Homo sapiens: one gene and its partners. The protein of the gene in region 1 purifies or fractionates together with the protein of each later gene. This does not show direct contact. Each region holds a gene or a part of one and is shown in the gene's direction. Other genes may lie near its edges. The genes, in order: CCNA2, PHF8 and SCAPER.

Evidence for each region.
Region 2: the proteins of CCNA2 (region 1) and PHF8 purify together in Homo sapiens (affinity purification with mass spectrometry; 5 studies listed by BioGRID and IntAct, with this or other methods). This does not show direct contact.
Region 3: the proteins of CCNA2 (region 1) and SCAPER purify together in Homo sapiens (affinity purification with mass spectrometry; 5 studies listed by BioGRID and IntAct, with this or other methods). This does not show direct contact.

The regions. Positions count from the first base shown.
Region 1 is NC_000004.12:121,818,405-121,821,032, reverse strand, and holds part of CCNA2 (cyclin-A2), read left to right. Parts: coding exon 1-54; intron 55-267; coding exon 268-491; intron 492-1,453; coding exon 1,454-1,661; intron 1,662-2,119; coding exon 2,120-2,233; intron 2,234-2,628. UniProt on the Homo sapiens protein: Cyclin which controls both the G1/S and the G2/M transition phases of the cell cycle. Functions through the formation of specific serine/threonine protein kinase holoenzyme complexes with the cyclin-dependent protein kinases CDK1 or CDK2.
Region 2 is NC_000023.11:54,034,423-54,038,080, reverse strand, and holds part of PHF8 (histone lysine demethylase PHF8), read left to right. Parts: intron 1-3,658. UniProt on the Homo sapiens protein: Histone lysine demethylase with selectivity for the di- and monomethyl states that plays a key role cell cycle progression, rDNA transcription and brain development.
Region 3 is NC_000015.10:76,769,283-76,772,940, reverse strand, and holds part of SCAPER (S phase cyclin A-associated protein in the endoplasmic reticulum), read left to right. Parts: intron 1-986; coding exon 987-1,199; coding exon of another isoform or gene 1,200-1,217; intron 1,218-3,658. UniProt on the Homo sapiens protein: CCNA2/CDK2 regulatory protein that transiently maintains CCNA2 in the cytoplasm.

The DNA.
Region 1 (2,628 bases):
AATGAAGTACCAGACTACCATGAGGATATTCACACATACCTTAGGGAAATGGAGGTAAAGGTTCTCTGAATCCAGTTTGTATAATGTATTTGTTAAATGTGGCTAAATGAAATTGAGAGGATAATGTTTAAATTTTTAAACTAATGAATTATTCTAATGCTACAGTTAAGTTTATAGCATGTAGCCTCTCGTAATTAATGGTAAAATAATCTAATTGCAGTTTTTACACTAGAATAATTTTAACACTATAAATAATTTTCTCAATAGGTTAAATGTAAACCTAAAGTGGGTTACATGAAGAAACAGCCAGACATCACTAACAGTATGAGAGCTATCCTCGTGGACTGGTTAGTTGAAGTAGGAGAAGAATATAAACTACAGAATGAGACCCTGCATTTGGCTGTGAACTACATTGATAGGTTCCTGTCTTCCATGTCAGTGCTGAGAGGAAAACTTCAGCTTGTGGGCACTGCTGCTATGCTGTTAGCCTCGTAAGTCTACCTTGGTTTGTTTAAAAGTGATCACGACCTTTTGTCTAGGGAAGAAATTGATTTTTTTAATGGTGACCTTTTAACATACACCAGGCAGAGTCAGTGACTACTTTAGGGATGGCAATGTGCTGGGGCTTAGGGCAGTGGAGGAGGATGAAACTGTTCTAATCTAGAACACTAATTTTCCCCCAACTGGATTCCTTGAACATGATATAGTACACTAGGTTACAAATTTTAAAACATTTTCCTTCCAATATTACTTTCTGGCATATAAGCAGTGTCTCTTTTATTAAGAAGTAAAGGCTGGGTGCGGTGGCTCGCGCCTGTAATCCCAGCACTTTGGGAGGCCGAGGTGGGCGGATCACTTGAGGTCAGGAGTTTGAGACCAGCCTGGCCATCATGGCGAAACCCTGTCTCTACTAAAAATACAAAAATTAGCTGGGCATGGTGATGCATGCCTGTAATCTCAGCTACTAGGGAGGCTGAGGCAAGAGAATCGCTTGAACCCAGGAGGTGGAAGTTGCAGCGAGCTAAGATTGCACCACTGCACTCTGGCCTGGGCGACAGAGCAAGACTCTTGTCTCAAAAAAAAAAAAAAAAAAGAAAGAAAAACTAAATTTAAAAATGAAAACATGAAACATGTTTTCCTAAGACTTGTATTTCCTAAATTTTCAGCTACTTGGTGAACTCTGGCATTGTTCCCATCTCGAGAAGTCTCATGCCTTTCATTTACTTCCTTTGACTGAACTGGGGAAAATATCTCAAAAGTCCTTTATTGATTTGGGCCTTTTAATTAGCAATTAGCTATCCAGTCTCTACTAGAAATGATGATCAAGTGTCTGGAAATGCAGTTGGTGTGGATTTTGGATTCATTCCATATTCTGCTAATGGGATTTCAGAACTGGGATAAGGAAGCTTGCTTCTCTTTTAGGACTGATTACTTAAAACTTTTTTCATTGTAGAAAGTTTGAAGAAATATACCCCCCAGAAGTAGCAGAGTTTGTGTACATTACAGATGATACCTACACCAAGAAACAAGTTCTGAGAATGGAGCATCTAGTTTTGAAAGTCCTTACTTTTGACTTAGCTGCTCCAACAGTAAATCAGTTTCTTACCCAATACTTTCTGCATCAGCAGCCTGCAAACTGCAAAGTTGAAAGTTTAGCAATGGTGAGTTAACTTTCATTTTGTTGAATGGTGATTCTTTGGTAATAATTAGGGGTAAGCCCTAATTCCTTTGTAAAGGAACCTAGTTCCTTTGTACAGCAGTGGTGAAGAGATTTAGTATTCAGAGGGAGATTAATGCTGCAGTATGGAAGAAAGCCTACTGCTGGCAAAAGATAATCTATATCAGGAAAGCACTAGAAGCAGAGGTCTAAGGATGACATCTTGGGGATGGGTAGTCAGAAGAGTTGTTTTTTAAAAGTTAATAAAGGAGGGAAAATACAGGATGAGGATGGAACAAAACACTAAAATGATTGATATGTTTAAAGATGAGGCTGTGAGATATTTTTTCTAGAGTTGCTACAGAGCCGTTATCAAAGGCAGGAAAAAATTAGGTTAGAAGGCAGAGGTTTGACATTTGAATTCTAAACGCTCTTGTGATCATAAAGTATTTTTTATTCCAGTTTTTGGGAGAATTAAGTTTGATAGATGCTGACCCATACCTCAAGTATTTGCCATCAGTTATTGCTGGAGCTGCCTTTCATTTAGCACTCTACACAGTCACGGGACAAAGCTGGGTATGTATTACGGTCTTCACACACCTATCTTGTGACTGAAATGCCTGTGCCAGATTAAATAATAATTGTCCTACAAAACTGAGGGTTGCCTAGATGTTCTTACTTGGAAAAACTTCAAATATATATAGTTGACCTTTGAAAAACACAGGTTTGAACTGTGTGAGTCCACTTACACATGGATTTTTTTCCAATCAAATGTGGACTGAAACTACAGTATTCAGGGGATTCACAACCCATATATATGGAAGGGTGACTGCAGGACTTGAATATGTACAGATTTGGGTATATTTGGGAAGGGTCCTGGAACCAATCCCTCATGTACACTGAGGGATGATTATATACTGTTTAAGGCATGTTACCTGTTGAACAGTGTTTGTTAGGTAGTAAGCTTAGTT
Region 2 (3,658 bases), on another chromosome or scaffold:
TTGATTTCTGGGATTTTTAGCACAAATTTCACTCTACAGTTTTCCTGTTTATAAAAGAAATATTGGTTGATACATGCCCAAGGGAATAACTTTGGTGTGGATTTTTAACTCTAGAGGAAAGGACACTGATTTCAGATCTGGGTTCAAATTCTGATTCTGTTACATATTAGCAAATAATTTCTTATCTGTGAAGCCTTAGTTTCCCTGAGAGGTTGTGATGATTTAAATAAAATGGTTATAGCTATCGTTTATTGAGCACAAGCTAGTGTTCCACTCACTATGCTAACCACTTCGCCTAATTATCTTTATCTTTTGGGGGAGTTTTAAAAATTATTCCATTTAGTAGTTATAGGACTATTCAAATTACCTATTTTATGTTGGATGTGTACTTTCCGAGAATTGACCCATTTCATCTAAGTTGTCAAATTTATGTTTGTAGAATTGTTCATAGTATTTCTTTATTATCCTTTTGATATCTTCAGGTGCTGTAGTGATAATTTTGTTTCATTAGTGATACTAAAAATGTATCAGGCTGGGCATGTGATGTCATTCATGCCTATAATCCCAGCACTTTGGGAGGCCAAGGCTGGTGGATTGCTTAAGCCCAAGAGTTCAAAACCAGCCTGGGCAACATGGTAAAACCCCGTCTCTACAAGAAATACAAAAATTAGCAGGGTGGGTGGCACATGCTTATAGTCCCAGCTGCCCGGGAGGCTGAGGTGGGAGGATTGCTTGAGCCCAGGAAGTTGAGGCCTCAGTGAACTGTGATCATGCCACTACACTCCAGCCTGGGTGACAGAGCGAGACCCTGTCTCAAAAAAACCGAAAACAAACAAACAAAAAAAATTTGTCTTCGTATTTGTCAGACTTGCTAGAGGTTTGTCAGTTTTATGGATCTTTTCAAAGAACAAGCTTTTTGTTTCATTGACTTTTTCTGTTGTCTTTCTGTTTTCAATTTAATAGATCTCTGCCTTTACTATTTTTTTCCTCCTTTGGTTTATTTTGCTCTCTATCTAGTTTCTTGAGGTGGGAGATTAGATTATTGATTTGAGACTTTCTTTTCTTTTTTTTTTTTTTTTTATTTTTTCTGAAACAGCCTGTTGCCCAGGCTGGAGTGCAATGGCGCGATCTCGGCTCGCTGCAACCTCCACCTCCCGGGTTCAAGTGATTTTCCTGCCTCAGCCTCCCTACTAGCTGGGATTATAGGCGCTCGCCACCACGCCCAGCTAATTTTTTGTATTTTTAATAGAGATGGGGTTTCACCATGTTGGCCAGGCTAGTCTCGAACTCCTGACCTCAGGTGATCCACCCGCCTCGGCCTCCCAAAGTGTTGGGATTACAGGCGTGACCCACAGCACCCGGCCTTTCTTTCTTTTCTAATGTAAGCCTTTAGCTGTTAAGTTTCTTCTCAGCACCAATAGATTTTAATATGTTACATTTTCCCTTTTCATGTAGTTCAAGGCATTAAAAAAAAAAAAAGTTTTTTTTTTTTTTTTTTTTTTTTTTTTTGAGACAGTGTCTCAGTCTGTTGCCCAGGCGGTACTGCAGAGGCAGGATCATAGCTCTCACTGCAGCCTCCAGCTCCTGGGCTAAAGTGATCCTCCTGCTGCCTCAAGGCATTTTTAAATTCCCCTTGAAACTTCCTGTTTGACCCATGAAGTATAGAAGTATGTTGTTTAATTTTGAAGTTTTTGTAGAGTTTCCTGTTATCGTTCTGTTACTGACTTCTAGTTTGATAGTGGTCAGAGAATATACTTTGTATGATTTCAATTCCTTTACATTTATTGAGATTTGTTTTATAGCCCAGAGTCTATCTTGGTAAATGTTTCATGATCACTCGAAAAGAATGTGTATTCTGCCATTTTTGGGTAGAGTGTTCTATAAATGTCAATTAACTACTGTTGGTTAATGGTGTTGCTGAATTCTTCTAATCCTTGCTGATTTTTTCTTTTTTCTTTTCTTTTTTTTTTTTTTTTTTGAGATGGAGTTTCGCTCTTGTTGCCCAGGCTGGAGCGCGATTTGGCTCACCGCAACCTCCGGCTCCCAGGTTCAAGCGATTCTTCTGCCTCAGCCTCCTGAATAGCTGGGACTACAGGCATGTGCCACCACGCCCAGCTAATTTTGTATTTTTAGTAGAGACGGGGTTTCTCCATGTTCGTCAGGCTGGTCTTGAACTTCTGACTTCAGGTGATCCGCCTGCCTCGGCCTCCCAAAGTGCTGGGATTACAGGTGTGAGCCACTGCACTCGGCCTACTCATTCATTCATTCATTTATTTTTGAGACAGGGTCTCTATGTCACCTGGGCTGGAGTGCAGTGGTTTGATCATGGTTTACTGCAGCCTCAAATTCCAGGGCTTAAGCAATCTCCTCATGCTTCAGCCTCTACAATAGCTGAAACTGCAAGCATGTGCCACTGTGTGCCCTAATTTTTAAAATTTTTTGTGTGGGGAGGGTGTGGGTGTAGGTTGGTGGTACCTCCCTTTGTTGCCTGGGATGGTCTTGGACTTCTGGCTTCAGATGATCCTCCCACCTCAGCCTCCCAAAGTGCTGGGATTACAGGCATGAACTACTGCTCTTGGCCCGAGTTATCTCTGTATTGCTTTTTTCAGTACTTGCTCTAGGTATTACATTATACATATAACTTACCATAAGCAACTGCTCTTGACATTTTACCAGTTTGATTGAAGAGTAGAAACTTTACTTTTCTTTTTCCTTTTTTTTTTTGAGACAGAGTCTCACTCTGTCACCCAGGCTGGAGTGCAATGATGTGGTCTCGGCTCACTGCAACCTCTGCCTCCTGGGTTCAAGCGATTCTCCCACCTTAGCCTCCCGAGTAGCTGGGACTACAGGTGTGGTCCACCATAGCCGGCTAATTTTTGTATTTTTAGTAGAGACGAGTTTTCACTATGTTGACCAGGTTGGTCTCGAACTCCTGACCTCATGATCTGCCCGCCTCAGCCTCCCAAAGTGCTGGGATTACAAGCGTGAGCCACCATGTCCGGTTGAAACTTTACTTTTCTTTATATGCCTTAATGCTCTTTTGTTTATAATCTAATTAATCGTTTTGTTGTTGTTGAGACAGAGTCTTGCTGTGTTGCCCAGGCTGGAGTGTAGTGGAACAGTCACGGCTCACCTGCAGCCTAAACCTCCTGGGCTCAAGTGATCCTCCCACCTCAGCCCCCCACCCCCCAGTAGCTGGGACTACAGGCATGCACCACTATGCCTGGCTGATTTTTTTTTTTTTTTTTTTTTTTTTTGAGACGAAGTCTCGCTCTGTCGCCCAGGCTGGAGTGCAGTGGCGTGATCTCGGCTCACTGCAACCTCCGCCCCTCCAGGTTTAAACAATTCTCTGCCTCAGCCTCCAGAGTAGCTGGAATTACAGGCGCCCGCCACCACGCCCAGCTAATTTTTTGTATTTTTAGTAGAAACGGGGTTTCACCATCTTGGCCAGGCTGGTCTTGAACTCCTGACCTCAAATGATCCACACGTCTCGGCCTCCCAAAGTGCTGGGATTACAGGCATGAGCTACTGTGCCCAGCCTACTCATTCTTTTAGGATAAGTGTTGGCAACAGATACGTTTAGTTTTCCTTAATCTGAGAATATCTTGATTTCCCTTGAATTCTTAGGGGATCTTTTCACTTCATATCGAACTCTGGG
Region 3 (3,658 bases), on another chromosome or scaffold:
GATATTTGTATAAATAATTAATCAAACTGGGGGGAGGTTTATGGCCACTGCAGCATTTATCTAATGTTTATTTAAGAAGTGATGGGAGTTTTAAATTCATAATTTTAGATTTTAGTTCTTTGACTTAGAGTATCATTGGAAAACACAGTACTATTGTTTCTCTTCTCTGTCCAAAGTAAAAATAAAGGCTTGACTCTGCTAAATTGGAAGGTTTTTAAAAAATGGGTATGTATTTAGCCTAAGCCACTGTTTGCTTTTTATATTGTATTTACATTTCTGTTGGTTTGTTATTAAATATTCCTAAAGGACAATAGGGAAGATATCTAAATCTAAAGTGTATGAATGTCATAATGAGACACTACATGCTTTCAATCTTCACCCTTAGGTCATGCTTTTCTCTTTCAGATCGGAGAATTGGGTTCATGTACCATATGAATTTTTAACAAAGATACTTTGAGATCATGTTAATATTATCTGAAGAGAATAAGTTTTATATTTTTGTGTAAAATGCCCTCCAAATATATTGTTGTAAAAATTGGTTTCAGGATTTTTTCAAAAGTACTGAATGTCCTCATTTGATATTAGACAGTCTTTGCAAAAGACCATGTAAATACTTTTGGTTGTATGAGTATAATACAGTGAATGAATGCCTCATACTTGTGACTAGATTTCATTTGCGAAGGATACAAAATACTCATCACAAATTGGCCTACTACAAGAAAATTACAATATAAATTGCTTAATTTCTTAGAAAACTTTGGATAGTGCCCAGTACATAGTAGGCATGCAAGTAAAATTTGTGCTTAATGGTCCCTGTCCTTTTGTTACACTTGAAACATACAAAAAAGATGAGTAAATTTTCTGTCATCCAGTCAAGTACCTCTTCTTCTTCATAGTTAATAGGTTAAGCAAAATCATCTCTTCTTCTAAAGTGGAATAGTTGGTATTTTTTAATTATCTCTGATTCATTCTCTACGTTTTGTTAGTTCACAGTGAGTACATTGGATGATGTGAAGAATTCTGGCAGTATTCGAGACAATTATGTTCGAACTTCTGAAATATCTGCTGTCCACATTGATACAGAGTGTGTTTCAGTTATGCTGCAAGCTGGTACACCTCCTTTACAAGTAAATGAAGAAAAATTTCCAGCAGAGAAAGCAAGGATAGAAAATGAAATGGACCCTTCAGATATTTCAAATGTGAGTGCTGCTAACTTGGTAAGAACAACTTATCAGAATTCTGAGTATATTTAAGAAGCATAAACCCCAATAATAATAACTTGTATGATTTATACTTTTTAAAGCATTTTTATATATTTATTTCATTTTAACATTTTATTATTTTGGTAAACTTTTGATATAGTTAAGATTCTTATTTTTTAGAGGAAGAAAGTGAGATTGTGAGAGTTAAGTGACTTGTTCAAAATCATTTGGTTTGTATGTGATTTGATCAAATGCTCTTAGCCCAGAATTAAGAATCTAAACTAGTAACAATAAAGTCTTCTATGCTACATCTAGCATTCTGATAGATGGGAAATGGTGTCTGCTAGACTTAGTTTTAAAAACTTTCTTAACAGAGTACTTTAGACAGCCACTATCATTTGCTTGGAGTTGGTCTTTAAGATGAAATTTATTTACCATCCCTATTCCAGAATCTCTAAAAATGCATTGATTTGTGATTATTTATAGATTTATGGTTTTGGATGATAACATATTTCTACCCATCTCTTCCTTTTGCTCATTTTAGTATTAGGATACTTGACCTGGGGATAATCCAGAATAAATCATGCTAACTTTGTTTAAAAACTAGCTTTCCAAAGAAATAGGCACATATAAAAAGCTGTGAAAAATTACTTAATTTTTACTTTTTAAAGGCTGCTGTGGACTATAATTTCTTCTAAAATTTAATGCCTAATGCTGACAGATCTTAACAACACATGGTATTAGGTAAAATTATACATTTTATAGGGATAATAACAGTAGAGATGAAACTTGATATTGGTTGTTTAAGGGTAAAAAGGAAAAGGTTATAGTAATACAAAAAACAAATGTTTAGATTCTTTTAATAAGGTAGAACAATTGATTTTCATCTTGTGTCTTTTAGTAATGAACATTTCTAAATGTTGAACATAATTATGCTCAAATAAGTAGTGAGTTTATTGTATGGGGTGGAATTTGGTCATTTATTTTGTTTTAGCAGTTGTATATCAAATTGTATATTTTTCAGTTTGATTCTGTGAGAATCAAATTTTAAAAGAGGAAAACTCTCATCCTTAAATAAGCATGAAATAATTAAAAATTCTGACCTCATTATTTTTATTTTCATCACATATATAAACTTGCAGAGTCATAAACCCTTTTGGTTATTTTGAGGGTCAAATTTGCATACTTGAAAGAAAATAAATTCTGCTTTAATGTGGATATTAGTGTATTCTTAGAGGTGTTAAGAATACTTTTTGTTTTGTTTTGACAAACCAAGGGTGATAAGGTGATAAGCACCTTATTGTTTAGTTCCCAAGTGGAGAGTTACAGAGAATTCCTGTAGTGATGAGACAACTGTTTTTTCTTTTCTTTCTTTTTTTTTTAAAATTATACTTTAAATTCTAGGGTACATGTGCACAATGTACAGGTTTGTTACATAGGTATACATGTGCCATGTTGGTTTGCTGCACCCATCAACTCGTCATTTACTTTAGGTATTTTTCCTAATGCTATCCCTCCCCCAGCCCCCCACCCCCTGACCAGCCCAGGTATGTGATGTTCCCCGCCCTGTGTCCATGTGTTCTCATTGTTCAACTCCCACCTATGAGTCAGAACATGTGGTGTTTGGTTTTCTGTCCTTGTGATAGTTTGCTTAGAATGATGGTTTCCAGCTTCATCCATGTCCCTGCAAAGGACATGAACTCATCCTTTTTTATGGCTGCATAGTATTCCCTGGTATATATGTGCCACATTTTCTTAATCCAGTCTATCATTGATGGACATTTGGGTTGGTTCCAAGTCTTTACTATTGTGAATAGTGCTGCAATAAACATACGTGTGCGTGTGTCTTTATCGTAGAATGATTTATAATCCTTTGGGTATATGCCCAGTAATGGGATCGCTGGGTCAAATGGTATTTCTAGTTCTAGATCCTTAAGGAATCACCACACTGTCTTCCACAATAGTTGAACTAATTTACACTCCCACCAAGTCTTCCACAATAGTTGAACTAATTTACACTCCCACCAACAGTGTAAAAGCATTCCTATTTCTCCACATCCTCTCCAGCATCTGTTGTTTCCTGACTTTTTAATGATCGCCGTTCTAACTGGTGTGAGATGGTATCTTATGTGGTTTTGATTTGCATTTCTCTGATGAGCAGGATGATGAAAATTTTTTCATGTGTCTGTTGGCTGCACAAATGTCTTCTTTTGAGAAATGTCTGTTCATATCCTTTGCCCACTTTTTGATGGGGTTGTTTTTTTCTTTCACTCTCTTTTTTTTTTTTTTTTTTTTTGAGACAGAGTCTCACTGTGTCCCCCAGGCCAGAGTGCAGTAGTGCAGTCTTGGCTCACTGCAAGCTCCACCTCCCAGGTTCACGCCATTCTCCTGCCTCAGCCTCCCGAGTAGCTGGGACTACAGGCGCTTGCCACCACGCCTGGCTAATTTTTTGTATT